2 linked regions of the Homo sapiens genome follow. The protein of the gene in region 1 interacts with the protein of each later gene in a biochemical or structural test. Each region holds a gene or a part of one and is shown on either strand. Other genes may lie near its edges. The genes, in order: DAOA and DAO.

Region 1 (16,751 bases):
CAGGAACTAACGGTACACACCTAGGTGGTTAAGACAGTGTGGATGGTGATAAGAGAACATAAGGAAAATTCTGCCCTCCAGCTACTTTGAATTTAGTGTTCTGCCTAGTATGAATATTATTGAACCCTATGGTATGGTACTTAACTATCTAATGAGATGATAACTCTCTCCTACCTGTAGAAAATGTAGATGCCTTGTCTACTTCTGCTTATATACATGCTGAAACATACTGATGTCTGCTGTCTTCTTAATTTTACACTAATTTTTAAAGTAAAGATTGATTTGATAAAAAATATGCACTTGGAAAAATTATTCTGCTATTCCCACATTTCATGTTCATGTCTATTTACAGCTAACAAGACTAGCACGCAAATAGATATATGCTCCAAGATCTCGCTTCTTTTCATGTCTGGCTTCTCCCTGTTTACCCACAATTATTTTCATAATATTTTACTGTGATTCCACAAACCAGAGACAAATCTCTGAAGGGAATAGTGTTCCAAGGCATGGCCATCATTAGAAGACAATAAGCTTGTTTTCCTTCCAACATTCTTAGCTTTGTTGAAGGCTAAGTGGAAGAAATTAACATACTGCATGCCTTTCAATGAAAATTGTTTCTAATTATTTTGCTTCTCAAATTATTCCACCAGGCATTGATTAGACTTTTTAAATTCATTTCATATCTGTCACTCTCAGCTAACATTTGTAATTTTTTAATTGTTGTTAAAGAGAATCTATTAATTGAAATATAATTATCCTCTTTAATAAAAGTAAATAAAATTACTTGGGTAGCCAACATATTCAAGTAATCATCAATCTTGGTCAGAAATTAAAAGTAAGATGAGCATCTAAACTTGGCACTCAAAGACTGACCATCTGCACCTTTGAGGCAAAATAAAATTCAGTTTAGGAAAACCTTATGAAAATCAATGTTTTAATTATGCTATCAAGGGCTGTGGTAGGCAGAAACTTCTTTGCTCCACCCCCCAAAAATGTCCAGTTCTTAATCCTGAAAACCTGTGGAATCTTGTGTAACAAAGGGACTTCATAGATGTAATTAATGTTAACGACCGGGAGGTGGAGAGTGACCTCGGTTATCCTGGTGGGTCCAAGGTAGTCACAGGCATCTTTATAATCAGTGAAGGTCTCCCTGCTGTGCTTAGAGAGGGGGATGCTGGAAGAAGAGTGGTCAGAGAAGCAACATTGCTGACTCTAAAGACAGAGGGCAGGCCACGAGCCAAGGCATGCAGGAGGCCTCCAGAAGCTGGGGCAGGCAAGAGAATGGACTCAGCCCTGGAGCCTCCAGAAGGCATGCAGCCCTGCCCATTCCTTGCTTTTAGCCAGGTAAGATGTCTGTCAGCCTGATGAGAACTATGAAATAATGAATGTGCTTGTTTTTTTCACCACTAAATTTGTGCTTATTTGTTATAGCAGTGATAGAAAACTAAGACAAGGCTATATCTTGGCATGTCAGATTTTAAGTTATCTGCTATAGTGTAGAAAAGCCCAGAGAAGGAGCTGCAATTTGTCTCTTTGAAAAAAAAAAAAAAAAAAGGATCACCTTCTAGGGGATTAAACATTAATGGGCTGGGTGTTGTGGCTGACACCTGTAATCCTAGCACTTGGGGAGGCCGAGGCGCTGCTGCACTCCAGCCTGGGCAACATAGTGAGACCCTGTCTCCAGAAAAAAAAAAAAAAAAGAAAAAGAATTAAACGTTGACAGATTATTAAGTGAGGCACTGTGTGAGACCTAGCTTGGGTTTGCGCCTATAGATATTTAAAAGTTGATCCAGGTTTTCACTTGAAAGCAGAACTACTGCCTTAAATTCCCACTTCACAAAAATAAATCATGGATTGAGGGAAAAATTTACTTGTTTGCTTTATAAAAAGAGATATCGATCTCTTCATAAGTTATATATGTTTTACAAGGTTGCACTGTTTGAACTGTAAGTGTGAATGGTTGCTAACACTCCAGAAACCAAGAGGTACATTTTAACTGGAAAAATTTTCTTCCTGTATCTTACAAATTAATTGAAGTTTGTCTACGCTTGAAAATATGTCAAAAGTATTATGTAGCTTTACCACAGTTTTATCTAACTTCTAGAAGAATTTAAATTCATATAAAGATAAAGAGTAACATACCAATAGAGTTTAGAGAGTTTTCAGATTTGCTCAGAAGAATGCTCCTTTGAAAACCTATGAAGTAGATTTTACCCAATGTATATCTGGATCTAAAAATTAAAGAAAATATCAGTCGTGTTCAGATTCCTTTATACCCTGCAGAAGAGAGAAAGAATAAGCAACATCAATGGAGCATATAACATGTATGGTTTAGCACTTTCATATTTTTAATCTTAACTATTCAGCCAAATACGTCTTATTTTTTTATTTTTATAGATGAAGATATTGAGGTTTGCATTTTTTTTTTATAAATTGCTCAGTCATACAGTTGGTAAATAGCTGACAGGAGAGTTCACTCCAGGTCTTACTGGCTCTCAAACCTTTGCTTTTTAAAAATCTCCAAACTAGCGCCTCTCCCTTTTAACTGCAAAATAAGCACAAAGTTATCCCAGTTCTACACAGTGCTAAACAAATTCCTGTGAGCAAACAATTAGCACAGGCAGATGGAGTGAGGGGGAGGTGGTTTATAACAATGGAAAGCTGTCTGCCTGCTGTGGATTAAAGATTCAAACTCTTTGATCCTCCTCCCAGGGATAGGTGAGGGCCTATGTCTCCTCCTCATTAACATGAGTGATCCTTGGCTAGGTTCTCCTTTGACTGACAGAATATGGGAGAAAGTAAGGCTGAACCATATACTGGGCTCAGGCTTCCAACCCTGACATGTTCCACTTCCTGTCTCCAGGAACATTCACCCTGGGAGCTCTGTGCTGCCATGCAAATGTCACATTGCACTGAGGCCGCCATGCTGTAAAAAACCCCAAGCTACCTACCTGAAAAGCTGGAGAGAATCAGCACCCATCAGCTTTTCCAGCATTTTGGGTCCTCCCAGCTAAATCATCGGCATTGTGAAGCAGAGATGAGACCTCCTGCCATGCCCTTTCCAAATCCTGGACCAACAGAATCATCATATACACTAGTAAGCTTTTACTTTAAGCCACTAATTTGGGGTGTAGCTCTTTTGCAGCAAAAGATCATCAGAACACTGCCATGCAGGAGCTGATAAACTTGCTCACTGTTATGTATGTATCCAATGACTACTCACACACACATTACTTGCTTCACTCTACTTTCTGGCTTTCCATTCAGCAAATTTTAAGAAATGAAAATGTTATTCGTGGGAAATTAACTCAAGATCAATATTGTTGTAGTTAATCTCTTTGTAAATGGTAAAATATTAAATTATTGTGAGTCATTTTTATTTAAAGAAGTTTGGTTCTTTAAATGAAAGAAGTTTGGGTCTTTTGTGGATACTCTGCATATAGACATTCTAGACATGAAAGAATGTTGAAGACAAAGAATGTTGAAGAAATATAGACATGAAAGACTGTTGAAGTTTGGTTTTTTGTGGATACTCTGCATATAGACATTCTAGACTGGAGTGATACATCTTGTTCAGGTTTCTATGTTTTTAAAATGATAACTTGACACGCCTACCAATGCCAATTTTTAGGATATATATTTGTATATCTGTGTGAACTAAGGAAAATTCAGGAATGATTAAACCTACATATTTTGCCAGGAGAGACTGGATAATGTAAGTCTTTATATTTTTCACAACTTCAAGTTTATAGCATCCAAATGAGCAATTGCTGACATACCTAGGGGATTTCTCTGCAGGTTCAAGTCTGATCTGGCCTGAGGGCAACACTCTTACTGAGTGTGTTCCTAGGCACTCCTTGGCAGTTGGCTCCAGGCCACAATAAAGAGCCCTGATGATTCTCTGAGCAGGCCCAACTTCCATTCACATTCATGGGAATATGAGGATGACTTGTGATCTTCAGGACTTAGATAGACTCTTTCAGTTGGTGTAGGGTAAGCTCAGCTCATCTCTAGAGACTTCCCACAGTGGAGCTCATGCATGACTCTGTGCAGGTGGCACAGGACAGCCAGAGACAGGCACCTAAGGAGTGCACTACCAGCAGGTGGACTCTCCACTGAGGGAGGTAGACAAGGGAGAAAGCCAGGTGTCCACATGGAGCAGGCCTTACTCAGGGAGACTGAGATTTTGCTCTACACATCATAAAACGTGGAGGTCATTAATGGAATTTTTCACAGGACATGACTGCCATAGCCATGATAGGGTCCCTGGCTAATCTTTCAATTATGATAGCATCATAAGATAATTTTGAATATGAGGAGAGAAGAATAACTCTAGAACTGCAATATCCAATATGGTAACCCCTAGCAACCTAAGGCTACTTAAACTAATTAAAATTAAAACTTTAGTTCCTCAGTGCCACTAGCCATATTTCAAGTACTCAATAACCACACACACTTGGCTACCATGTTGGACAGCACTGACATAGACCATTTCCATTACTGCAGAAAGTCCTCCTATTTGACAGTCCACCTCTGGAACCAATCCGGAGTCTTTAGGGACCTAAAAGACTGAGGTGCTAAATCTCAGAGCAGTACTCTGCTTAATGCTTAGTTAAAAGACTTGCTAATCTATATAGTTGATCTAGAGAACTTTAAAGGCAGCTAGTTCGTAGCAACTATGTTGCTGGACCTTGAAACTGTATGTCAGGAACTTGGTGTTCTAGTGGTGACTTCTCTTTTATCTACCATGTTCACACTTTTCCTACCACTCATTTATCCATTCAGAAAGTATTTCAGAAGTCCCTATGATTTACCAGGTGCTATTTCAGACACTGAGGCACTGTGGGGAACAAAACAAACAAAGTCTCCTTTCTCAGGGATCTCACATTCCATGTGGTGATGCAGACTGTAAAAATTCACACACAGAAGATACTTTCATACAGTAGGAAGTTTTATGAAGAATATTTCAAAAGGGGTGTGGGGTGGGAGAGGTTGATGTTCAGGTGTTTGCTTGAGAATGAACTGTTCATACAAAGAATCAATAATTCATTTGTTCCACAAATATTTATTGAGTACCTGTTATTAGCAGGCTACTTTATTAGGTTGCCAGAGCAGGGTTTTCTTAGCACAATTAAAACACAATAACATTTGTTAGAAATTCAAAGACCCATGTCCACTCTTGCATAATGAATCAGAGTCTCGAGGTTATGGTCCAGAGACTGGTGTATTTAAAAATCACTGAAGTAATTTTAAGGTATAGCCAGAATAGAGAGGACACCGGCATTCTTCCTGAAACTCAACACACTAGACAATGAGAAATCATTAAAATGAAGTAAATATTTTGATTGAGATTGTTTTGGCTTCAAAATTAATAATAGCTTGGAGAGGAAAGAAGGTAAATTATAAAAGACAATTAAGAATCTCTTAAATGTATTTAGATAATAGTTACAGAGGGACAAAAATGAGTAGGATCTGTGATAACAGAAAGAATAAAAATAAACAAAAGGACTTAAAAAAGTAAGAATAAGAAAGAAGTCAACAGTAACCCAGAAATTTTCAACCTCATGTCTAAGAGAATGATGATGCTATTTAGCAATATATCCAAACCAAAAATACTACGAGAAGTAGGTTGTGTTCACTTGTGATGTTGTAAATTTATAATTACTTTTTCTTTATTTTGGATGCATGCTTTTCCTTTTTCTGAAGTTCTGAGACATACAAAAACAATAAAGAAAAACATGATTTTATGCCAGAAAATAAGATAGGAACAATTCCTCATGCTCAATATAATTTTAGCCTCCCACATAATCCAAAATATATGTGCAGCAAATTGTGGGAGTTTCGAAATTAGATCCAACTTCTTATTACAGTTAAAGATAAAAAGAAAACAAGGCTTTGTCTTTTTTAGGATCTTTTTTGGAACTTGCAGTATAAAAATACTCTTTCAAAAAACATAACTCAACATCAAAGTCCAATAAAACAGTAAACTGGACTAAATATATTCGTATATTAGCTTGACCTAAGTCTGGGAATTGAGCCAGACTTTTCAAATTATACTATCATTATTTACAGAAAAAGGAAATGTTAACTAACATTATTAAATAAAAGCACATATACACATGCATAACAGGAAACAAAATGAATGTTAATGTTAACAAATGTTGAAGATGTGTGTGTGTGTGTGTGTGTATGTGTGTGTATACAAAGCAGATAAGATATTCTCTTGAGCATGATTGGATTGGAAATAGTAGCTATGCCAGGGGAAATTTTATGCAATCCCCTTGGCTGTGGGCTACACATTTATTGTGTTATACAAATATGCCAAAAAAAATGCCATTTACACAGTTGCCTAAAACAAAATTGAAATTATACATTAGTGTTTAAAGTTTTTTTTTTTCTTTCGCCTCCTTTTCTTAATGAATGGCAGATAATGAAATTTAGGAGTTTGCAAAAACAAACGTAGTTTAAATTGTACCTTAGTTGTCTATGAAATACAAATACATTTTATATATTTATGGAAACATTTGTGTGTGTTCAGAAAGTCCATATTTTGCATTCAAGATTGACCCTGTTTTAAGTCATATTTCATTTGCTACACTCAAATTGACTAAAGGCAGATACTTTGGCATTCACTTTTTGATTCATTATTAAGGCATTATTTTGATTGATTCTGCTTAAGGTAGTTTTCCTGATCAGAGTAGACGTTTAGGCCACCTATCTAGACAAATATCCCACTTTCCTATCTGAAATATTTGATCTCTCCTTACCCATTCTAGGGTTTTGTGCATCTCTAAGATGATCATCTTGGTGTGGGGTCCTGATCTTCCCAGTGACTTAGCAGCACAGTAATTTGGCTGAAATGTTGATGAGTTCAGACAAGAAGAAGGTGATGATGACAAGAGAGCGTCACGGGGAAATTCTGCCCTGAGGAAGGAATAGTTTGAGGCTGGAGAGATGTGCTACCCCCGCCACTCTTTCTCAAATGGTATTTATTCTTGAAAGACAGTGTAAAGTGTCTGAAATTGCAGAAGCAAAGTGGTTGCTGTAGAAATACATACCATGACGTGCTTCAACTCGTTTCCTTAAAGGTTAAAGAAAGAAAAATGTGCATCTTGAAGAAAATTCCAAACCCTCATTGTGAGGAGTAATCCAATATTTCAATTTAGAAATTCAGAGGGTTTTAAATAAGAAGCAATTATTCTAGGCAAAAAGCAAATATAAATGCCAGCAGTCAAAAAACCAGTGAAAAGATATGATTAAAACTGAGATGTAAAAAATAGATATTTATCTGAAGTTCTTGACTTTTAAAGTCCACAGGCATTTTCCCTTAAGAAAAGAATAAAAACATTAAATGTTAAAGAAAAACATAAGAAATATTATAAAAAAGATAATTATTCAGAAAATATTAGTATTTTGTTACCAACACCAAAGACAAACAGAGTATTTTTCAATGACTGGAAGCCAGTTTAAGTGAGGAAAAAAAAAACACGTTATTATTACTGCTATTATCCATTATTTTTATTTTTACTTTTGGCAGTGTTATTTGCTAATCAGCTAACGCATGGTAGTGGACTTGATCTTTTATGTATTATAAAGGTTGTATCTTCTCATTTTAAGGGAATATTTTAACTACATTGTCCAATTGTACACTATAAATGCAGCAAGACCAGGTCAAGTGAAACTTCAGTGGGCGAGTCTCTTTCTTTTCTTGTGTGTAGGGCTCTCCCTCCCACCTGCTACCTTGACTTTTTAGATTCCCTGTTCCCCTGGTCTGTGCTTGTATAATATACAAGCTGTCCTTGACATAGCACGTTCCTCTTTTTTCCTTCATTATTTTTAAATGGTTATAATATACTCTTAAAAACAAATTTGAATATTACTAATAGATTCTAATATTATCTTACTCTCTGAAATTAAGTAGTGATGTATATTGTGTTAAACGCTTGTCTATGCTGATGCAACATATGGGCAGGTCTCTCTCTGGGCCTATATGTATTTGTTTCATATCGTTGTACACAGATTCATTCATTTCTTTAAATGGGTATATAATATTTCAGTGTATAAATTAATCACTCGTAAGTGGCTAGTAATTTAATTTGTTGCTACTTCCTCCCAAGATGAACAGTGCTTTAGTGAGCATCTAGCCATTTCTGTATCTGTCTACTTATTGATTTATGCATATATTCACCACCTTCTTCTTCCACAAATAGACTACACATCCTCTTCATGAGAGTCTACACAAAAATGTTACAAATAACATTTTTAACGCAATAGTTCCCTTAAGCTCACACTTGTAATGTTTCTGCCCAGACTTAAGCCAGCCAAATGTGTGGAAATAAATTCCATTTGTGTATTAAATATCAAAGATAGGGAACATTCATAACAAATGTAAACATAGCCAAGGATTCATTGAAACATTTCCACATACCATCTCTCCAAATCTGGTTTTAAAGAGATTGTAACATAATTTCAGGAATAAAGACCTTCTGGAATTGAGATTTATGGAAAAGAGATTATAGCTCCACAAGATTCTAGGGATGCAAAAGGTCTGGAGGAGCCTCCAGGCACAGGCACTTTGTTTCCATGCTGAAGATTCAATGTGGGTTCTGAAAATGCTGCTTTAGCAAGCACACATTTGTTCCACTGGTGTTGGATTTTCTATTGATTAATAGTTACCATTTTTTTCTTCTCTTAGGAAAGACAACCTGTAGGCACAGAAATCATTGCTCTGCTTACACTGAAATCTCCTGCTGACTTTGAGAGCTGAGCATTGGATTTTGATGGGAGAGTGAAACTTAGTGAAGAAATGATTTGAACCTTTGTTGATCTAATACTTCTGTGATACAGTTATCTAAACAGAATGAGTCTAAAGTCAGTATAAAGACCTGTGTCTCTCCATGTTTTGCTGCTTATAATTGCAGAGGAACATTTTGAGATAGAAAATTTTATCCCTCTTTCAAGTGACTTTTTATAAAACATAACCTTTTAAGAGAGGTCATTCTTTTGAAAAATTGTCTGAATACAAAAAAGTAACTGAACAGCAAGGGATTGTAGCCATAATGTTCTTGACCACTTTAGATTGACAAATAGTATCTCAAAATTGATCAGGTTCTGGAGAATCTATTGAGGTTGTATGGAGTAACCAAGTGATGGAAGAGGTTGGAAGTGAATAATTTTATGTGGTATTATGTGATTTTTTTTGGTGGGGGTAGTGTCTGGAGCTGAGCATGATGGAGCCTAGATGGGGCAGCCTTCTAATGCTCCCAGTATTTCGCAAATCATATGTCACGTCAAAATTGTAATGACAAAGCTCACAGCAGCTGCCTACGCCAGGTTTGGTGCCAGCTCTAATTAGAGCATTGATCATTTCTCTCCCCTTCATGAATGCACATGAGTGCACATTTTCATATATAAGGGCAAAGGACATTTCAAAGTTTGGATGGAATCTTTCCTACTTAGAAGTAATAAAAAACAATACTTTGAAATCTTACCAAATGTTAAACAAATAGCAACAATTTTTCCATTTGAAGATGTGTGTCTTAAGGTCTGTTGGATCTTTCAAATTTCTATTTTGGACATGGAAACTACAGATGAAATTTAACTTACTCAAAGTTACACAGAACTCCTGGCTGATCTCTTTTACTTAATTCTTCTAAAATCTAAAGTAAGAATAATTTTGAAATTTTATTGGTAATGCTTAAATAACAAAAGTTACTTTAATATGTTACATGTTTGAAGTTTCATTTATACTTAATATCTAATTTAACGCTTGTGAAAATATTATTCAGTATTTTTTTTTCTTTTCTAAAATGACTTGTTCAGGGCTCCTTTTGGGATTTTAAGTGAGAAAAACTCTATTTCATAATATTGTTACCATGCTCATCCAATAACACTTCATAGATGGTTAGCCATCTCTAAAATTAAATTTTGTAGTTGAGGAGCATTGAAAATATCACCTATATTTGGATTTCTGTTTAACACTTCAAAATGCATTTTATCATAATTTAAAATTTGATTTAAATACAAACCTCTTTATAGAAAACCTGATAAATGTAGTTTTATTTGTTTGCTTGCTTTTTTTTGCAGGGAGGGATATTCCCTTGATACCACTCTGTCTTTATGACTCATCGGTTATTTATAAATGTTATCATCGTTTTTCTGATTTTTAAATAAGTTTCAGAATTAATACATTTAACTGAATAAATCAACCAATAATGTCAAACTTAAAATGTGTTTGTAACAAGAGTCAGCACTTATAATGAAAAATATAATTAATTAAGAGGTTACAAAACTTATAAGCAGAGTTTACTCTGCTTACAGAAGGGCAAACATTTGTTATTTGATACAACATATTAAGTATTTATCCCATGCAATCACTGTCCTAGGCTTTGAGTTTATAGTGATGATCAAAACGATTTACAGGTTTCAAGAACCCTGCTCACATACAGCTTACAATCCTATGTGGGAAAATGATAATAGTGAAATAATTACATTAATTAATATATACTTGATTCAAATGTAAATAATTATTCTGAAGGAAAGACACCTACATCAAGAGAGCTGGCTTAAATTCGGGGATCAAGGAAGCCTTTCCAAATAATTGTTGATGGGATTGAAAGACAATTGTGGGATGAGATGACCACCTGGGCTTGGTATGGGGGAGATACAACTGTCAGTGGGAAAGCCCTGGAGATGGGGAAGAAGAACTTCTTCAATGGAGAGAAGTTCCTGAGTGAGGAGAAGGCAGGTGACCACAGTGTGAAGTGATGCTATAGAAGCCAACCACGTGGCTATGCAAGCAGAAGGAATTTATCCAAAAAGAAAGGGGGAGGCATTAGAGGGATTTAGTGTGGAGAGTGGTGGTGACAAGATCAGATTTGCAACTTGCAACTCTCTCTCAGGTTGCAGCATGGGGGATGATGGGATGAGCCCAGAGTGGACTGACGCATTTCCAGTAGTCCAGGAGAGTGGCATGTGGCATGAACTGTGTGAGGAAGGGGGAGCTGGGGGGAAGAAGTGGGGTAACAACACCCTATTTGTTGTTTTGCTTCTTACACTTTGAAAAATATTTCAAAGCAGGAATGCTATTCCAGACATTTAACACCTGGAACAGGAATAAGTACCAACCAAATATCGTGGGAGACTGACGAATCAGAATGAACATCAGCTCTGCATGGCAGTATGGTTTTAAAACACTTTCATGTCTATGTAAACAAAGTAAAAATGTTAAAAGATTATTTTACGCCTTTGGTTATCAGATAGTCAGACTTTTAGTAGTTTATATTTTATTGCAGTCTGATGAGGTCTGCTTTTAATAGTAGTTTTCTCTTCTTCCCCCAACCCCATTACATTAAAATGGCAAATGATACTTTTCCTTGTTAGTAAGCAAGGCCAAGTTAGGATTATCAGAAAGTCAATACCTAAACACAAAGAATAGTGCAGCCAAACCCGGAAAATATTGTCTGTTTTGCCAAGAGGAAGCATCTCACTGAGTATCTGGAAAGCTCATTGTTTCTCAATTATGGTTATTTTATTAGTTGCCATAACTCAGCTATAGTCATAATGTAACTGACCAGCACCGATGATGAAATCAATAACCACTACAACAGAGTAAATGCTGTTTGGGGTGCAAGAAACATCATTTTTATCTAAGTGAAAGTACATCTCATTTAAATGTATTTCAAGTTGACATTTTGTATATATTGTTAATAAACTTCAATTTTACTAAAATCTCTGCAATATCTAATCAATATACTGAATGATATGCTCTCCCCTTTTGTGCTCAAATAGGATCTGTTTATATTTTAGTTAAGAAATGCTATGCCATTTTATTATATTAGAAAAATATTTACTGGTAGGAATTTGGTTTAAACTCTCCCTGTTATTCAGCTGGGAAGTATATTACAAGTAAGTCTTTAAAGACTACAATTGGAGACCGGGCACGGTGGCTCATGCCTGTAATCCCAGCACTTTGGGAGGCCAAAGTGGGTGGATCAGGAGTTCGATACCAGCCTGGCCAACATGGTGAAAACCCCGTCTCTACTGAAAATACAAAAATTAGCCAGGTGAGGTTGCAGGCGCCTGTAATCCCAGCTACTCAGGAGGCTGAGGCAGGAGAATCCCTTGAACCTGGGAGGCAGAGTTTGCAGTGAGCTGAGATTGCACCATTGCACTCCAGCCTGGAGAACAAGAGCGAGATTTCGTCTCAAAATAAAAAAAAAAAAAAAAAGAAAAAAAAAGACTAAAATTGGAGAGTTTAACGTATCAAATTTAGGAGATAAATGGTAAATAATATGTTTGTATATGAAAATATTTTAATACAATATTTGAAATGAAGAAACTGAGATCACACAACTTTTTGAGCGTTGAGTTTATACATTTATTTTCTTTCTTTCTTTCTCTTTCTTTCTTTCTTTTTTTTTTTTTTTGAGATGGAGTCTCACTCTGTCACCCAGGCTGGAGTGCAGTGGCACAGTCTCAGCTCACTGCAACCTCTGTCTCCTAGGTTCGAGTGATTCTCCTGCCTCAGCCTCCCGAGTAGCTGGGACTACAGGTGTGTGCCACCACGCCTGGCTAGCTTTTTGTATTTTTTTAGTAGAGATAGGGTTTCACTGTGTTAGCCAGGATGGTCTTGATCTCCTGACCTCGTGATCTGCCCATCTCGGCCTCCCAAAGTGCTGGGACGTGAGCCACTGCGCCCAGCCTATTTTCTTTCTTTTACCTATATCATTTCATTTTTTTATTGATACGGAATATTTTACATATTTATGGAGTACATGTGATATTTTGTTACATGCATAGAAGGTGTAATTATCATCACGGTTTTGGGGATATATATCCCCTTCAGTATTTAGCATTTTTATGTTTTAAGAACATTTCACATTCTCTCTTCTCGCTACTTTGAAATATACAATACATTGTTGTTAACTATAGTCACTCTATTCTGCCATTGAACATTAGAACTTAAAATACTTTCCAGCCAGGTGTGGTGGCTCACACCTGTAATCCCAGCACTTTGGGAGGCCGAGGTGGGCGGGTCACCTGAGGTCAGGCGTTCAAAACCAGCCTGGCCAACATGGTGAAATGTTTGTATTTGTAAAACTACAAAAATCAGCTGGGCGTGGTGGTGGGCACCTGTAATCCTAACTACTCAGGAGGCTGAGGCAGGAGAATTGCTTGAACCTGGGAGGTGGATGTTGTAGTGAGCCCAGATTGGGTCATTGCACTCCAGCCTGGGTGACAAGAGCAAAAGTCTGTCTCAAAGAAAAAAAAAAAAAAAAAGAACTTATAGCTTCCAACTAACTCTATGTTTGCACCCATTGATCATCTTTTCTTCATTCCCCACTCTCAGCCATACACACTTCCCAGCCTCTGGCATCTATCATTCTACTGTCTACCTACATGAGATCAACATTTTTAATTCCCATGTATGAGTGATAACATGTGGTGTTTGTCTTTCTGTGTCTGGCTTATTTCACTTAACATAGTGACCTCCAGTTCCATTTATGTTGCTGCAAATGACATAATTTCAATGTTTTTGTGCACAATTAGTATTCCATTTTGCTTATCTATTTGTTAATTGATGGAGATATAGGTTGATGCTATATCTTTGCAATGGTGAATAGTGCTACAGTAAATATGCCAGTGCTGGTCTCCCTTTGGAACACCGATTTATTTTCCTTTGGATAAATACCTGGTAGTCGAATTTCTGGATCATATGGTACTTCTATTTTTAATTTTGCTCAGAAATCTCCATAGTATTTGTTCATAATGGCTGTACTAATTTACATTTCCACCAACAGTGTATAAAAGCTCCTTTTTCCCTGTACCCTCACCAGTATCTGTCATTTTTTTGTTTTTTTTAGTAATAGCCATTCTACTGGGGTAAGGTGATATCACATAGTGGTTTTGATTCACAATTCCCTGATAGTTAGTGATGTTGAGCATCTTTTTTATATACTTGGTGGTTATGCCATTTGTATGCCTTTTTTTGAGAAATGTCTACTCATGTCCTCTCATGTCCTTTGCCTACTTTTTAATAGGATTATTTGTGAGATTTGTGAGGTTGTTTTTTGTTTGTTTGTTTGTTTGTTTGTTTGTTTTCTTACAGTTGAGCTATTTGAGTCCCTTGTATTTTCTGGATATTAGTCACCTGTCAGATGAATAGCTTGCAAATATTTTCTCCCATTCAACAGGTTGTTTGGAGATTCTCTTTAAAATAGCTGCAACAAACAAACAAACAAACAAACCCGGCCAAGCACGGTGGCTCATGCCTGTAATCCCAGTACTTAGGGAGGCTGAGGCGGGCGGATCACGACGTCGGGAGATAGAGACCATCCTAGCTAACACAGTGAAACCCCATATCTACTAAAAATGCAAAAATATTAGCCTGGCGTGGTGGCGGGTGCCTGTAGTCCCAGCTACTCGGGAAGCTGAGGCAGGAGAATGGCGTGAACCCGGGAGGCGGAGCTTGCAGTGAGCCGAGATTGTGCCACTGCACTGCAGCCTGGGTGACAGAGCGAGACTCCATCCAAAAAAAAAAAAAAAAAAAAACCCTAGGAATAAATGTAACTAAGGAGGTAAAATATACCTACAAGTTGCACTAAAACACACTGACAAAAGAAATTGAAGAGGGTGCAAACAAATGGAAAGATATCCTATGCTCATGGATGAAGAGACTTAATATGATTAAAATGATCGTATCATCCGAAGCAATCCACACATTCAATGTAATCCCTATCGAAATAACATTATTTTTTCACAGAAAAAAATTTAAAAATCCTGAAGTTTGTATAGAACCAAAAAAGAGCGCAAATAGCCAAAACTATCCTGAGCAAAAAGGACAAAGCTTTAGGCATCACACTACCTAACTTCAAAATACAAGGCTATAGTAACAAAAATAGCATGGTGTTGGTATAAAAAGACACATAGAGACCAATGGAACAAAACAGAGAATCTAGAAATAAAACCCCATATTTACAGCTAGCTGATTTTTGACAAAAATGCCAAGAACATACATTGGGGAAAGGATATCCTCTTTAAAAAATGTTTGCAGGAAAATTGGATTTCCATATGCAGAAAAATGAAACTGGACCCCTACCTCTCACCATACACACAATTCAACTCAACATGGACTAAAGACTTAAACGTAAGACCTGAAGCTATAAAACCACTAGAAAAAAACAGGGAAGACACTTCAGGACTTTGTTCTAGGCAAACATTTTATGGGGGAGACCTCAAAAGCACAGAGGACAAAAACAAAAATAAATAAATGGGGCTGTATTAAACTACAAAGCTGCAGAGCAAAGGAAAGTATTTTCTTAATCCTTACTGGTTCTTAAAAAGTTTTGGATGTTGACCAACACATCTATTATGATAATTAAATGATTTGGACATGTCAAGCTTGTCAGGATATGCGCAGGTTGCCCCCTTTAGGAAGAGCACAGTGACTCTTTCTAATTCTATTTTTCTATTTCTTAAACATAGCTGACTATAAAATTGCAATGAAATTTGTGTATGAGCTAGGGAAGATGTTGGGTTGGGTTGAGATTCAAGGAAGGAGTTGGACTTTAAAATGGTGGAATCACCAGTAGAGGACAACACCGTGTACCAAAAACGTTCACAGGACAAGCCAGGTTGTACACCATGATATATGAGTTGTGATGCTGATGAAGGACATAGTAAGCTTCCAATAATGGGTCAAAAAAAAAAAAAAGAAAAAAAGAAAAGCATTAATATTAGGCAATGTATTTTGGTGCCTATAATTTATATTCTTATCAATACGGATAGCTCCATATTGATCTGTTTATATATATCTATTTGTTTATATCATTTGATTAAAATATGGCATTGACCATTGGAAAGGTACATCTCAAATTATCCTGGTTAAATGTGAAAGTATGAAGAGGCTGTGATTATAAGCATTTAAGTTTCAATCAAGTAGCAAGTGCTGTCAAGATGGTATATCCAATCAGATATTGTGAGGGACATGTGATTGCTATAGATTATTCTGCTGTCTTAAGAGATAGGCTGTGGATATTCAGATTGTGATTTTGGAGTTTAAGAGGGCAAAGTAAATTGCCTGCTGAACTCACAGTCATGTTTGAGAGAGACTGACAGGAAAAGGTAAAAATGAATCATCATCTACAACTGGCTGGATTGGACCTGACGGAATAAGATCCAGCAGGAAAGGTGTGTGACTACCATTCCTGGAACTGGGTTTTGCTGAATCATTGGACAGTTTTGCTGAATCATTGAGCATACAAGTTTTGAGGGATACATGTGCATTTAGAAAGTAACGAATAAGAATATTCATAATTATCTGCTACTTTTCATAGCCCATGTATTAACACCAAAGCAATTTTAGATGAGCTATCAATAAAAATATTAAAAAAGAAATCACAGTCTATTTATTTAACACACATTGGTTATAGTCAACAAGGTAATGTGTTGTGCTGCAATAATACAAGTAAACATCCGTCTAAGAATCCATTGTTTAGTAGGTATTACTGTACGAATTTTTAACAAAGCTGCTTTAAACACTATACCAACAGTTTTAAATACAAAAGCCCAGTGGTCAAGCTCTAATATAAATGAATAAATGTGGCCTTCTGGAAGACCCTAGAGAGACAACAGGACACAGAGTGGAGCACAGGAAAGAAAGAAGTCCACTTCCTGCATAAATGGCGGCGGCAACTCTGTTTCACCTGACAGACGCCTCCTCGAAATGCAGTCCCATTTAAAACATTTTT
Region 2 (16,148 bases), on another chromosome or scaffold:
GTGTGAGTAATTTTTAATATGAAGCAAGGGAGAGAGATGAAGCAGGGTTTCTAAACATGACTATAGCCATATAAAAGTATGTTATAAAGCTGGGCGTGGTGGCTCACGCCTGTAATCCCAGCACTTTGGGAGGCTGAGGCGGGTGGATCACCTGAGGTCAGGAGTTTGAGACCAGCCTGACCAACATGGAGAAACCCCGTCTCTACTAAAAATACAAAAACTAGCTGGGTATGGTGGCGCATGTCTGTAATCCCAGCTCCTCAGGAGGCTGAGGCAGGAGAATTGCTTGAAGTCGGGAGGTGGAGGTTGCAGTGAGCCGAGATCGCACCATTGCACTCCAGCCTGGGCAACAAGAGCGAAACTCCGACTCAAAAAAAAAAAATGTTATAAAACCACACACCACTATAAAGAAATGATAATGCAAAAATCATAAAGGACGAAAAAAAAAAGGAAATAGATTTAACTACAAAAAAGTTTTTGTTTTGCTTTTGTTTTTTTAGAGTTAGAGTCTTGTTCTTTTTCCCAGGCTGGTACAATCATAGCTCACTGCCACCTTGAACTCTTGGGCTCAAGCAATCCTCCTGCCTCTGAAACTGCGTTTGCAAAAATTATAACTGAGAAAACGATGACAGTGAAAGAGATCTGACCTAACTGACTCCATCTTGCTTCTAACCTCCAAGCTGTCCGTGTTCATTCCTGGGTGTAGGCCAAACTAACTTTGGGAGGAATTTAGTTTATAGTTTAACTTTGTCAAAGTTTAACTAAGATGTTAATAGCCCATTTTCCAAAACAAACCCCTTTCCTGCCTGGGGACTAGACTGCCTTTGCAGGACTAACAAATTATTATAGCTACCAGATTAGAAATTATGGTTTAGGAGTCATGCAGCTGAAGCCTACAAGATTCTGAATCTCCCAAATTGCTCCTGGAGATAACATCACCATTGTAAAACCTAAGATCAGTGCTTGACATATTTTGCAGACCTCGCACTCGATGGATCAGCTGGCACTACCCAAATGGATAAACAGGCTCATCTGATCTGTGGTCCCCACCCAGAAACTGACCCAGCATAAGAGGACCGCTTCAACTCCTATAACTTTGTCTCCAACCTGAACAATCAACACTCCCCTACTTTCTGACCCCCTACCCACCAAATTACCCTTAAAAACCTTAGCCAGGCGCAGTGGCTCATGCCTGTAATCCCAGCACTTTGGGAGGCTAAGGCAGGCGGATCACCTGAGGTCAGGGTTCGAGACCAACCATGGCCAACATAGTGAAACCCCATCTCTACTAAAAATACAAAATTAGCCAGGTGTGGTAGTGTGCGCCTGTAATCCCAGCTACTCAGGAGGCTGAGGCAGGAGAATCGCCTGAACCCGGGACACAGAGGTGGCAGTGAGCCAAGATCACTCCACTGCACTCCAGCCTGTATGACAAGAGCAAAACTCGGTCTCAAAAACAAAACAAAACAAAAAACCCACAGAAAAAAACCCTGAACCATGATCCTAAACTCTTTCACTATTGCAGTTCCCCTGACTTGATACATTGGCTCTGTCTAGGCAGCGGGCAAGGATAACCCATTGGGCAGTTGCACCTCAGCCTCCTGAGTAGCTGGGATTACAAATGCAAGCCACAGCTAAAAAAATTTTCAAACCTTTGTAGGACAGACAAATTGGGGAAAACATTTGCAACAAAGGGATGATACACATACATATAAAGAGTTCTTTCAAGGCTGGGCACAGTGGCTCACGCCTGTAATCCCAGCACTTTGGGAGGCCGAGGCAGGCAGATCACGAGGTCAGGAGTTCAAGACCAGCCTGGCCAATATGGTGAAACCCCATCTGTACTAAAAATACAAAAATTAGCCGGGTGTGGTGGCATGCGCCTGTAATCCCAGTTACTCAGGAGGCTGAGGCAGGAGAATTGCTTGAACCCGGGAAGCAGAGATTGCAGTGAGCCGAGATCGCACCACTGCACTCCAGCCTGGGTGACAGAGTGAGACTCCATCTCAAAAAAAAAAAAAAAAAAAAAGAGTTATTTCAAATTAATAAGAAAAATAACCAACACAATTCAATAGAAAAATGGGGAAAAAAGAATAGGCACTTTACAAAGAAATAAATACAAAGCCCAGTGGACATGAAACTTTGCCATCTCCTTAGCAGGGCTTGGAGTAAGATGGGGAGAAGGAAGGATGCAAAATTTAAGGAGGCTGTCACTCTCAGGGCCATGTAAGTACAAAGTGGGCATATGAGGGTAAGTGCCTCCTTAAATGTGTAAATTGCTAGAGCCCTGCTGGATGGCAGTCTGGCAAAATGGATCAATATTTTAAATGTACAAACCCTGGCACAATGATTCCATTTTTAGGAACTGACCTTATGGAAACGATCAGGCAAGTGTGCCAAGAAACACATCTAGGATGTTTTTAATGTCGACAAATTAGAAATGACAGGTAAATTCAACCCTACGGACTGACTTTAAAAATTGTTACATCTGGCTGGGCATGGTGGCTCACGCCTGTAATCCCAGCATTTTGGGAGACCAACATGGGAGGATCGCTTGAGCCCAGGAGTTCAAGACCAGTCTGGGCAACATAGGGAGACCCCGTCGCTACAAAAAAAAAAAAAAGTAAAAATTAGCCAGGTTGGTGGTGCATGCCTGTAGTTCTAACTACTCAGGAGGCTGAGGAGGGAGGATCACTTGAGCCCTAGAGGTCAAGACTACAGTGAACTGTGATTGCGCCACTGTACTCCAGCCTGGGCAATAGAGTGAGGCCCTGTCTCAAAAAAGAAAAAAAAATGTTACATCCAGGTACATTGGCATCCTGTGTAAAAAGGATGCCATCCTGTAGTCCCAGCTGCTTGGGAGGCTGAGGCAGGAGAATCGTTTGAGCCCAGGAATTCGAGGCTTCAGTGAGCTATGTTCACACCACTGCACTTCAGCCTAGGCAACAGAGCAAGACTTTGTCAATAAATTAAAAGAAAAATAAAAAGTACGTCACTGTTCTATAGTGGTCGTGGAAAGAGGCTCAGGGTATGCCATATTGGTACAAGTGAACAGAGGAACCAACATATGTCACATGATACTATTTTTGCCACCTGCCCGTGTTTATGTTCACATTTGGAAATATTTGCCCAAAGTAATGGTCCCTATTTCCTGGTGGTGGGATTAATTGCAGGGGATTCTTACTTTCTTCTTTATGCCTGCTGCATAAATACTTGAAATCCTTAAATACTGCTTAATACTTGAAAAAGTGATTAAAGCTAATTTTGTCTGAGAAAGAGAGTGGGAGTTAACCTGTTATTCTGTAACTTCCTGGCCCCACCAGGGTTGACTCCTGCAGAGCATTCTCCAGGTAAATGTTTTTGCCCTGGCCTGACTGTATTTCAGAACTACCAGGAGGTCGTTTTGTTTATCAACCACCCAGTGGGGTCAAAAAGACCCTTAACTTCTACAATTCCAGCCAAATAAACAGAAGTTGCTTTCGAAAGTCTAGGGCCTCCCATTACTAGGATCAGTGAGTTTAGGACTTCAGGGTAGTGGAAAGGGCCTTGGTCCCACAGAGCTGTCTCAGGGCACTTAAATTTCCCTAAGTGTAAAATGGACAGCTTCAACCGTATCAGTGTTTCTCACCTTTCTCTTTTCTTTTCTTTTGAGACAGGGTCTTGCTCTGTTACCCAGGCTGGAGTGCAATGGCAAGATCTCAGCTCAGTGCCGCCTCAACCACCCAGGCTAATCAATCCTTCTACCTCAGCCTCCCAAGTAACTGGGACTACAGGCCTGTGCCACCATGCTTGGCTAATTTTTTGTAGAGATGGGGTTTCATCATGTTGCCCAGGCTGGTATCAAACGCCTGGGCTCAAGAGATCCTCCTGCCCCAGCCTCTCAAAGTGCTGCGATTACAGGCGTGAGCCACTGTGCCTGGCTTTTTCTTAAACTCACTCTCCTTTTTAATAAAGATAAAATTCTTACACCCTTCCTAGTGGGTACCTTTCTCCTTATTCCAATAGCCGAGAAGATACTGTGGAACTTTACTTTCTGTAGATTATATCACGAAAACAATAGTTGTCCCCCAAGCTCATTTTCCAAAATTAAATAATAATTCTAAGTATGCTTGTTTGTACACAGTACAGGACTTTCTGAAGCCACAGGCCACCTCCAGTCCTGGTCACTGATGCCTGGGGTCCTTCTCTGGCTCTCAATTAAAAGCTATAGTGTAGTGACTGAGTACCCCAGTTCTGGACACAACCTGGGTGAGGGTCGCCAGGTAAAATACAGGGCGTTCTGGGGAGGTGGCCCACGCCTGTAATCCTAGCACTTTGGGAGGCCAAAGTGGGAGGATCAGGAGTTCAAGACCAGCCTGGCCAACATGGCAAACAATGTCTATACTAAAAATAAAAAAATTAGCCTGGTGCAGTGGCACATGCCTATAATGCCAGCTACTTGGGAGGCTGAGGCACAAGAATCACTTGAACCAGGGAGGCGGAGTTTGCAGTGAGCCAAGACCACGCCACTGCACTCCAGCCTGGGCAACAGAGCGAGACCCTATCTCAAAAAAAAAAAAAATATAGATACACACACACACACACACACACACACACACACACACACACACACACACATATGGTGTCCTGGAATCTATTTCCTAGATCTGGCAACCCTAACCTAGTTCACATTTGGGCCTCTGCTTCCAGGCAGTGTGACTATAAGCACAGTCTGTCTTTCCTTTTTTCTTTGTCTCACCCTCTTTCTTCTTCTTTCCTTCTTCCCTCCTTGCCTGCCTGCTTTCTCCTTCTTTCATTTTTCTTCCTCCCTTTCCTCCCCTCCACTCCCTCCTCCTTCCTTCCTTTATTCCTTACTTCCTCTCTCCTTTTCTCTCTCTCTTTCTTCCCTAATTGTGTCAAGTGCATCAATCTTAATTTTAAATATGCAGCTTGATGAATTTTTACATATGCATAAACTCCTGCAACCACTACCCAGATTAAGGAGCACGTTTCCAGCATCCCAGGAAATTTTCTCATGCCTCTTGCTGGTCAGTATCTCCCCCAGAGGTAACCACTCTTCTCACAGCCTGTTATTGTCAATTAATTTTGTATGTTCTTGAATTTCATAAAAGTGGAAGTATGCAATATGAGCTCTTAAGTGTCTGGCTGCTTCTTCTTAACCTAATGACTGAGATTCATTCAGGTTGCTATATATAACAGTATTTTCCCTTTTCATTGCTGTATAATATTCCATTGTGTGAATTTTTTTTTGGAGGGGGGAGTTTTGTTTCCTGAAAACACCACAATTTGTTTATCCATCCTCTGTCTCATAGATATTTGGTTGTTTCCAGTTTGGGGTGTAAATTCAAAATAAAATCCTAAGGGTCCACTAAATGAACACCCTTCTTGGCAAAGGGAACCCCAGAAAAACTTTAAAAACTTTGTTTCCAGCCATGATGAGACAGGAGGTCAGGCACACCACATTACACTCCCTTCCTTCCTTTTGTGGTTTAGATACAAGAAAAGATCAGCATCAATGCTAAAATAGAGGGCTGAGTATGGTGACTCACACCTGTAATCCCAGTCCCCTGGGAGACTGAGGAAGGCAGATCACTTGAGGCCAGAAGTTCGAGACCAGCCTGGGCAACATGGTGAAACTCTGTCTCTACAAAATAAAATAAAATAAAATAAAATAATTAGCCAGGCACGGTGGTGCGTGTCTGTGGTCCCAGCTACTGGGGAGGCTGAGGTGAGAGGATCGCTTGAGCCCAGGAAGCAGAGGCTGCAGTGAGTCATGATCTTTCCACTGCACTCCAGCATGGGTAATAGAGTGAGACTCTGTCTCAAAAAAAAAAAAAAAAGAGAGAGAGATTATAAGACTGACAGAACAGACTTTTTGTGGCAATAAGATACCAAATTATAAACACAGCCTAAGGCCATGTCAGGCAAGGGTTAAGTCAGGTGCCCCTACTCTTAAGGAATAAACTATGTTCTAATTATGTTACAAGATTTTTCTTTTTCTCTAGCAGCGAAACAAGCACTGGCCTCAGAAGAAGCAATATTAAAACAGTTACAACTCATCTAGCACACAGACACCCAACTGACACCCTGTTCCTCCAGTCATAACAACAACTACAGCTTTGATTGAACAAGAGACTGAGTTTGGTAACTTTCTCCTAATAAAAAGATCACTGACTATGGACTGCTTCTGGTGGGGTTACGAAACCGCAACCTCATGTGCCTGCATTTCCTGAAAAGACATTTTGATGTGTAGGTTCTAATTGTAATACATTGATTGATTGATTGATCAATTGATTGATTGAGATAGGGTCTTACTCTGTTGCCCAGGCTGGAGTGCAGTGGCACGATCACAACTCACTGCAACCTCTGCCTCCTGGGCTCAAGCAATCCTCCCACCTCAGCCTCCCAAGTAGCTGGGACTACAGGTGCACGCAACTGCGCCCGGCTACTTTTTGTATTTTTTGTAGAGACAGGGGTTTCGCCATGTTGCCCAAGCTGGTCTCAAACTCCTGGGCTCAAGCGATCCACCCACCTTGGACTCCAAAAGTGCTAGTATTATAGGCATGAGCCACCATGGCTGGCCTAATTGTAATACATTTAAATGTTAAGTCTCCACCCCAAAGTGAACATGGGTTGTATGTTACATGCACATTTGTTCATACACATGTGTTGGGGCCACCTTCATAAATATTCATAGCTTCTCCTGTAACCTGCTGGATATATCATTCAGCCAACCCCTTCAGCACAAAGCTCCTAACCCAACCCCTCCTCCTTCAAAGTGCCCGTCTCTGTTCTTGGTAGGAGGCATACTTCCCAGGCCATGGACTGGTCACCTTGTGGGCTATAACCCCTTATAAGAAATAAGATTTCTTCTCCTCTCTGAATTTACACATTTGTGATTTTTTTTTTTTTTTTTTTTTTAGTTAACAGGGGCTATGAACATTCTTACAGAAGCCTTTTGATTGATGTGTGTTTTCATTTATCTTGGGTATATATATAGGCGTGGGCATGATAGATATTAGGATAGCCATCTTTAACTTCAGTGGATGCTGGAGCAAGTTTCTGAATTTCAACTCTGAAGTGGGGATGATAATAACAGCACCTGCCTTACAGGGCTGTTTCGAGATTCAAAGAGAAAATCTGGGTAAGGCAGGGTGCGGTGGCTCACGCCTATAATCCCACCACTTTGGGAGGCCAAGGTGGGCAGATCACCTGAGGTCAGGAGTTCAAGACCAGCCTGGCCAACATGGTGAAACCCTGTCTCTACTAAAAATAGAAAAACAATGAGCCAGGTGAGGTGGTATGTGCCTGTAAACCCAGCCACTCGGGAGTCTGAGGCAGGAGAATTGCTTGAATCTGGGAGGCAGATGTTGCAGTGAGTTGAGATGGCACCACTGCACTCCAGCCTGGGCGACAGAGTGAGACTCTGTCTCAGAAAAAAATAAAAAAGAAAAAAAGAAAATCCAGGTATTTAGAATTGGTACACCGCAATTTACAAAACGTAAATTATTGCTGTGATGGCAGTGGGGAGCATGAAGATATTGGACTAACTTTTATGAATGTTCAAGTGCTCCCATGATGAATTAAACACACAGGGAACTTTATAAGGGCCATATGTTATATAAGTGATACATGACTATTGTATTAAAATTCAAACTAGTTAGATATAAAGTAAAAAGTGGGTTTCACCCTATCCATTTTTTATTATTGAAGAAAAAAAAATATGTCATAGCGTGGTGGCTTATGCCTGTAATCCCAACCCTTTGGGAGGTCGGGGTGGGATGATTGCTTGAGGCCAGGAGTTTGAGACCAGCTTGGGCAAAATAGCAAGACCCTGTCTTTACAAAAAGTAAGTAATTTGGCTGGGTGTTATGGCATGCATCTGTAGTCCTGGCTAGGCTGAAGCAGAAGGATTGCTTGAGCGCAGGAGTTCAAGGCGCCACTGCACTCTGGCCTGGGTGACAGAGTGAGATCCTCTCTCTCTCTCTCTCTCTTTTTTTTTTTTTTTTTTTTGTTTTTTGAGACTGGGTCTCACTCTGTCACCCAGGCTAGAGTGCAGTGGCTTGATCTTGGTTCACTGCAAGCTCCGCCTCCCAGTTCAAGTGATTCTCTTGCCTCAGCCTCCCGAGTAGCTGAGATTACGGACATGTGCCACCACGGCCGGCTAATTTTTGTATTTTTAGTAGAGATAGGGTTTCACCAACATGTTAGCCAGGCTGGTCTCAAACGCCTAACCTCAAGTGATCCATCCACCTCGGCCTCCCAAAGTGCTGCGATTACAGGCAAGAGCCACTGCGCCTGGCCTGACCCTGTCTGTTATCTTTTCTTTTTCTTTTTTTTTGTTTTCTTTTTTTTTTTTAGACAGAGTATCGCTCTGTAGCCCAGGCTGGAGTGTGCAGTGGTGCCATCTTGGCTCACTGCTACCTCCACCCACCAGGTTCAAGCAATTCTCCTGCCTCAGCCTCCTGTGTAGCCAGGATTACAGGCACACCCCACCACTCCTGGCTGATTTTTTGTAATTTTAGTAGAGACGGGGTTTCGCCATGTTGGCCAGGCTGGTCTCGAACTCCTGACCTCAGGTGATCCACCCACCATGGCCTCCCAAAGTGTCAGAATTACAGGTGTGAGGCACTGTGCCCAGCCGACCCTCTTTTAAAAAAGGAAAAAATACTATGCAGTGAGTATTTTGCATGCATTTTCTTATTTCATCTTCGTCTTTTTATTTGATGATACTAAAGGCAGGTGTTAGAGGCTGGATTGCTAAAGCTGACCCAAAGAATGCCTCCCTCAGGGCTGGTTGGTCCCTCTCTCTCAGGCCTCAGTCTTCCCATCTGTACAGTGAGGTGCCTGCAGATCTCTGGGCTCTAAAAATCACAGCTCCATGTTTATCCCTGGCAGAGGAAGGGCCTGGAGTCCTGCTGCTTGCGTCTCTGGGATACGGGAGCAAAGAGCCACGCATCCTCATGGCCCACACAGGCGTCACCTCCAGTCTCTCCTTGGCCTCATCTCCCCAGCGTCCTGGAATGGCATCGGGCTGGCCCAGGGAGCCCCTGTCCTGTGCCTCTCCTTTCCCCTCAGGGGCTGCCAGGCTGACCACCCCCACCGCAGGCCAGGCCTACAGTGCCCCATGGAACGTCCTGACCCTCCCCCAGGGTGGCAGCAGGAAGAAGGAAGAAAGGGGATCCTCTCCAGCTGGCCAGAGAGACAGACCTTCTTGTGCTCATCAACCCTCCAAGAATGCCTGCCCTCCCTCCTTCCCCCAAGGCCTGTCCACAGGGGCTTGAGATCAGCCAGAAAAGTCAGGCAACTTTTCAGGGACTGGGAGCGAGGTCTCCCGGCCGGGCCTGGGTCCAGTCTCTGTGGGCAGTGCAGTGCCGAGCCCCACCCCTCAAGCCGTGCCCTGTCCATAGCTCCAGACTTTGACCCTGCACTCCAGTCCGGGCTGGCGGACAGAGGGCTGGAAACAAGACGCTCCAGAATCAGGAGCTTCCCCTCAGGAAATAGCATCCTGTGTCCCCGCACTGCAGTTGTCTGGTCTCTCCAGCAGTTTGGTACTTCCGGTGAGTGGCAGATGCACCTTTGAGCTGGGGACAGGGGTTGGGAGAGGGGAGAGGCAAAGGATTTCATGTCCTCCCAATGTCAAAGACAGGGCTCAACATTACAGCCTAAGGCAGGTGACAGGAAAGGAGAGATCCAGCCTCTCAAACATCCAGCAGAGAGACCATAGGTAAGTGATTTTTCCCTCCCCAAGCCTCAGTTTCTTCACCTGGAACATGGGGATCATAACTCCCCTCTTACAGCGTGAGTCTGAGTGTTAAAAGAGGTGGTGCATGTAAAGTGCTTAGAGCAGATCTAGGCACATAGCAAGTACTCAAATGGTAGTTATTATTATTTTTGGTGGGGGAGTTGGTAGGCTGGTTCTCAAACTTTTATAGCTTCTGTTCCATTTCAAGGATAAACTCTGCAAATAACTTCATGAGAAGTAGCCGTGTGGTGCAACCAGGGAGAACTAATTATGTTCATTCAAATGCCTCATCTCTGGCTTACTGATTTTTTTTTTTAAAAAGAAGTCTTTCATATTCTTTGCTATGGGCACATAGCAATCAAAGGCATCAGCTGTCTCAGATTGCCTTCTAGGGGACAAGGGAGGTCCTAGGCAGATAAATGCAAGACTGAAAGACAAGCAGAAAGCATCAAGTGGCAACTGCATGCCAACTGCCTAAATATTTTTTTGGAGCAGTGCAGAAAGCGCCGATAGAACTGGGTCTAGGTCCGAATGCTGTCCCATACTGACTGCGTAACCTTGGGTGGGTGACTTCTCCTCCCTAAACCTCAGTCCCAGCCTCCAGAATGAGGGCGGTAACCTTCCCTACTTCCTAGAGCAGTTGAGAGGATTGAGAGGATTATGTCGGTACTGCATCTACAGGTGTCTGGCAAGTGGCAGAGACCAAAATACATTGGTTCCCTTCCTGCTCCACACTTACACAGACATTCTAATCACACACACACACACACACACACACACACACACACAAATATAATAATCCCAGCTGTTTGCATCTTCTGGGATACATACTCCAAGCTTGCTGGGTTGAAGTAATGATGTAAAACAGAGGAGAACGGCAACACTAATAAAAACATCAGCAACAACACGAAAATGTCCAACCGAATAACTGAGCTGGGTGCGTTTAAGTCCAAAAGCTCATTACCTACACGCATGAATGATTTTACCTAAGGCTGGATCTGCCACATCTGACAATCTGTCTCTGGCTTGTCATGAGGACCTCATGCATTTATTTTGTATTTTAAAACACACACACACACACACACACACACACACACACACGTTGCTATAATCAGTGTCAACTTTGACTCATATCTTGAATTTTTTTAAAAAAAGATAATTGACTTAGGACTCACACTTTTTTCCTTTTAAATTTTTTTTTTTTTTTTTTTTTTGACAGAGTTTCACTCTTGTCACCTGGGCTGGAGTGCAATGGCATGATTTCTGCCCACTGCAATCTCCACCTCCCAGGTTCAAGGGATTCTCCTGCCTCGGCCTCCCGAGTAGCTGGAATTTCAGGCGTGCACCACCATGCCAAGCTAATTTTTTTGTATTTTTGTAGAGACAGGGTTTCACCATATTGGCCAGGCTGGTCTTGAACTCCCGACCTCAAGTGATCTGCCAGCCTCGACCTCCCAAAGTGCTGGAATTAAAGACGTGAGCCACTGTGCCCGGCCTTTTTGATTTTCCATTCTATTCCTACCAACACTCTAAAAATTCCTACAGGCATTTTATTTTATTTTATTTTATCTTATTTTATATTATATTTTATGTTTGAAATGCAGGACTCTGAAGCTTCAGCTGTTCCTATTTACCGGCTTGATTCTCAGATTTTTCAAACCATGTGATTTACTGGCAAGCATGGCATTTAAGCACCTAGGCTTATGAGTCAGGCTGGCCTGGGCTCTGCCTCTCACCACCTGGGTGTCCAGGAGCTGATATTCCAGTGAGGAGACAATAAGGCAAGGAGCTTTGTCAGCTCTCATAAAAGTTTATAGATGAGGTCGGGCATGGTGGCTCACGCCTGTAATCCTAGCACTTTGAGAGTCTGAGGCCAGCAAATCACCTGAGGTCAGAAGTTTGAGACCAGCCTGGCCAACATGGTGAAACCTTGTCTCTACTAAAAATACAAAAATTAGCCAGGCATGTTGGTGCATGCCTGTAATCCCAGCTACTCAGGAGGCTGAGGCAGGAGAATCACCTGAACCCGGGAGGCAGAGTCTGCAGTGAGCCAAGATTGTACCATTGCACTCCAGCCTGGGCGACAAGAGTGAAACTCTGTCTCGAAAAAATAAAGTTTATAGATGAGGAAACTGAGGTTCGATTAGGATTAACCAACTCATCCTGGTTTGCCTGGGACTCTGATGCACTGACTTTTAGTCTGAAAGTCTGCATCCTGGGAGGACCCTCAGCCCTGGGCAAGCTGGGGAGGTTGGTCACCCTCACTCAGTCAAGTTGAGCAACTTGCCCAGGGTTACATGGCTGGTGTGTGCCCAAGTCAGGCTGCGAACCTGGGTCTGTCTGACTCTCAGCCTGGGCCATACTGTCTCTTAGATTCTTCATGGAGAATTAGGAAAAATACAGAAAGCCCTTTATTCCTCTGCCTTCTCATTGTTAACATATAAAAATGGTCAAGCGGGCGGGTGCAGTGGCACACACCTGAAAGCCCAGCGCTTTGGGAGGCTGAGGGGGGAGGATTGCTTGAGCCTAGGAATTGGAGGTGGCAGTGAGCTATGATTGTGCCACTGCACTCCAGCCTGGGTGACAGAGTGAGACCTTGTCTCTTAAAAAAAAGAAAAAGAGTGGTCAGCTCTCCGGAAATTATGCAGACAGTCAAAAAGCCCAGAGAGGGGAATTAACTTAGCCAAGGTCGCACAGCAAGGCAGAAGTGAAGCCAGGTCTGACTCTGCCTTTCTCTTCTCCTCTTTTTTTTTTTGAGGCAGAATTTCGCTCTGTTGCCCAGACTGGAATGCAGTGGTGCGAACTCGACTCGCTGCAACCTCTGCTGCCCAGGTTCAAGCGATTCTCCTGCCTCAGCCTCCCGAGTAGCTGGGATTACAGGCGCCTGCCACCGCGCCTGGCTAATTTTTGTAGTTTTCAGTAGAGATGGGGTTTCACCATCTTGGCCAGACTGGTCTTGAAGTCCTGACCTCGTGATCCACCCGCCTCGGCCTCCCGAGGTATTGGGATTACAGGCGTAAGCCACTGCAGCTGGTCCTCCCTCTCTCCTTTTGTTCCTGCAATGTCTTTGTTCTATGTGATTTTTCAAAATGCTAGGAGACAGGAAGGAGGCTGCTGTGTGTTGAGGGCCTACTCTGTGCCAGGCGTGGTACCAAGAACTTTTGCTAAACTTCTTATTTAATCCTTAAAATGACCCTGTGAGATTGGGATTAACCCTGTTTTGCAGATGAAGAGCTTGTGTCTCCAGAGGCAAAGTATGGGGGAAGAGGGAAGAGAGAAGACCAAGGGTCCCTGAGAGGGGCTGTCCCCTAAGCCCCAGTATCCAAGCTCGGGCTCGAAGCTGGAAGGAGAATTGCCTAGAGGAACGATACCTTTCTGTTTGTTGGTTCTATCTCCAACTTGGCTTCTGAAACCCCAACAGAGTCCAGTTCTTGTGGGCTGGAGCCGTTTTCCCTCCTTTATAAAACTAGGCCATATTAAGAATGTCCCGCTGTCCAGGGCCACAGGCCCGAGTTGCCAGGAGCTGAGGTCTGCGGGAGGAGAGTTGTGAGTGAAGATGAGGGAAAGTTGAATTTGGCTCTTCTGGGCACAAATAATTCTCTTGTTCTGCCTCAGCAGGAGCCTGCAGAATATTTCCCTGCTGTGCGGGCTTAAGTAGCTTCAAGGTTAAAAGCTGGTAGGCCTTCTAAACTTCTCAGGGCCCAATCAGCCCTGTGCCCCAAGGCAGGTGGAGTTCTGTGCTGGAAGACCAAGTTCTGAGGCCAGACACTGCGTCTGTCATGCTCATAGCTGCATTTGCTAGCTGCCAGCCTGGCACATGGTAGGTGTGCATTAAGCGTGTGTTGAGTTTACTCAAATTGAAATTAAGTCACAGCTGTACCATTTAACTGGCTGTGTGACTTCAGGTAAGTCACATCACCTCTCTGAACCACAGTTTCCTCCTCTGTAAGACGGGACTGATAACAGCAGCCCCTACCTCATGACAGTGTTGGGAGACTTGGATGAATGGATGCTTGTGAAGCACTTAGTGCCGGGGCCAGCTGGCTCACAGTAGGTGCTCCACAAATGTCAGTATATTACTTCTTTTGCATCAGGCAGCTTGTTAAATTTGTTACGTTTGGCATCTTGTTCAATTTCCCATCCATCCCCTCAAGCATAGGTTATTAGAGGTTGAAGCATCTTGCCCAAAGTTAACGGCCAGTAGGTGGCAGAGCTGAGTCCTGAAGCCAGAGCCCATCGCACTAACCACCGGCCTACCCAGCCTACAGTTGGTCGTGCCCTCTGCTGGGTCTTTTCTATTCCCAGCCCAGAAACTGGGTGTCTGGGGACGCTCCCCAGAGAAAGTTGCATCATTCACCAGCCGTGTGACTGTGGCCAAGTCTCGGTCACTTCTCCATACCTCAGTGTTTCCATTTGCAAAACGGGAACAATGATATTCCTTCCTCCTAGGGGTCATCGGGAAGGTCAAATATAAAAAGGGCTTGGTGGTGTCTGGCACCTTCTAAGCCTTCAGTGGATGGTGGCAATGGCGCTAAGGATGATGGAGATGATGGTGATGATGTTGTGCCTCAACCCTTCCTTCCCACAGGCTGCTGCAATGCGTGTGGTGGTGATTGGAGCAGGAGTCATCGGGCTGTCCACCGCCCTCTGCATCCATGAGCGCTACCACTCAGTCCTGCAGCCACTGGACATAAAGGTCTACGCGGACCGCTTCACCCCACTCACCACCACCGACGTGGCTGCCGGCCTCTGGCAGCCCTACCTTTCTGACCCCAACAACCCACAGGAGGCGTGAGTGAGGGTCACATAGGGTAGCCTGGGGTGCCCATGGACCTAAGTCTGCAGAGGGAGTCAGGGTTCCCATCACCAAGAGCAAGCCCCTTGTGGAAGCTCTGATCTAGCATAAAATAAAGAAAATGCCAGGCGTGGTGGTTCACGCCTTTAATCCTAGCACTTTGGGAGGTCGAGGTGGGAGGATCACTTGAGGCCAGGAGTTCCAGATCAGCCTGGGCAACGTGGTGAAACCCCATCTCTACCAAAAATACAAAAAATTAGCCGGGCATGGTGGCGCACACCTGTAATCCCAGCTACTCGGGAGGCTGAGGCAGGAAAACCATTTGAGCCTAGGAGGTGAAGGTGGCAGTGAGCTGAGATTCCGCCACTGCACTCGTGACAGAGTGAGACTCTGTTTCAAAAAGAAAAAAATAAAGAAAAGATTCATAAATATTAAGCCCCTTGCTCTGTGCCAGATACTAGGAGGCTTTGTCTCGTCTTCCCTAAACTGGGTGCCTGTCAATACCACATGATTGGTGAATCTGGAAAACTTCCTCTGTTTTAATTTATACATTTTTATTTATTTTTTGAGATTGTGTTTCACTCTTGTCGCCCAGACTGGAGTGCAATGGCGTGATCCTGGCTCACTGCATCCTCTGCCTCCCAGGTTCAAGCGATTCTCCTGCCTCAGCTTCCCAAGTAACTGGGATTACAGGCATCTGCCACCACGCCTGGCTAATTTTTGTATTTTTAGTAGAGATGGAGTTTCATGTTGGCCAGACTGGTCTCGAACTCCTGACCTCAAGTGATCTGCCCACCTTGACCTCCCAAAGTGCTGGGATTACAGGCATGAGCCATCATGCCTTGCCAAATTTTATCTTTTTAAATAGAGATAGGGTCTCACTATGTTGCCCGGGCTGGTCTTGAACTCCTGGGCTCAAGTGATCTGCCCTCCTTGGCCTCCCAAAGTGCTGGAATTACAGGCATGAGCCATCATGCCTTGCCAAATTTTATCTTTTTAAATAGAGATAGGGTCTCACTATGTTACCCGGGCTGGTCTTGAACTCCTGGGCTCAAGTGATCTGCCCTCCTTGGCCTCCCAAAGTGCTGGGATTACAGGTGTGAGCCCTTGCACCCAGCTGAATCTAGAAAACTTCTAAGTGGGTGAACATCTAAGTGGGTGGATGGATGCACAGATTTATCAAATAAATTGCAAAGGTCATTATGGTAGTTTAGAAACTGCCAGATGGTTCAGCAAATGGAACACCCAATGAATAGCAGCTCAAACAGATTAAAAAAAAATTTTTAAGAGGCATCCTGTCACCCAGGCTGAAGTGCAGTGACATGATCATAGCTCATTGCAGCCTTGACCTCCTGGGCTCAAGTGATCCTCCCACCTCAGCCTCCCAAGTAGCGAGGACACACATGCATGCTATCATGCCTGGATAATTTTCTTTATTTTTTGTAGAGCCAGGGTCTTCCTATGTTACCCAGGCTTGTCTCAAACTCCTGACCTCAAGTGACCCTCCTGCCTCAGCCTCCTGAAGAGCTGGGATTATAGGCATGAGCCACTGCAACCAGCCAGAATTTTAATTCACACAGCTGTAAAAAACCAATGATTCTGATCAGT

The links.
Region 2: the proteins of DAOA (region 1) and DAO form a complex in vitro, tested with the Homo sapiens proteins (one study listed by BioGRID).

The regions. Positions count from the first base shown.
Region 1 is NC_000013.11:105,452,533-105,469,283, reverse strand, and holds the start of DAOA (D-amino acid oxidase regulator), read right to left. Parts: upstream 3,240-16,751; 5' UTR 3,224-3,239; exon of another isoform or gene 3,069-3,223; 5' UTR 2,996-3,068; coding exon 2,952-2,995; exon of another isoform or gene 2,864-2,951; intron 2,278-2,863; exon of another isoform or gene 2,232-2,277; coding exon 2,143-2,231; intron 1-2,142. UniProt on the Homo sapiens protein: May suppress DAO (D-amino acid oxidase) and SOD1 activity and promote their degradation. Has conversely also been suggested to function as a DAO activator. May stimulate the degradation of DDO (D-aspartate oxidase). May play a role in mitochondrial fission.
Region 2 is NC_000012.12:108,870,665-108,886,812, forward strand, and holds the start of DAO (D-amino-acid oxidase), read left to right. Parts: upstream 1-9,427; 5' UTR 9,428-9,560; intron 9,561-9,645; exon of another isoform or gene 9,646-9,727; intron 9,728-14,333; 5' UTR 14,334-14,342; coding exon 14,343-14,536; intron 14,537-16,148. UniProt on the Homo sapiens protein: Catalyzes the oxidative deamination of D-amino acids with broad substrate specificity. Required to catabolize D-amino acids synthesized endogenously, of gastrointestinal bacterial origin or obtained from the diet, and to use these as nutrients.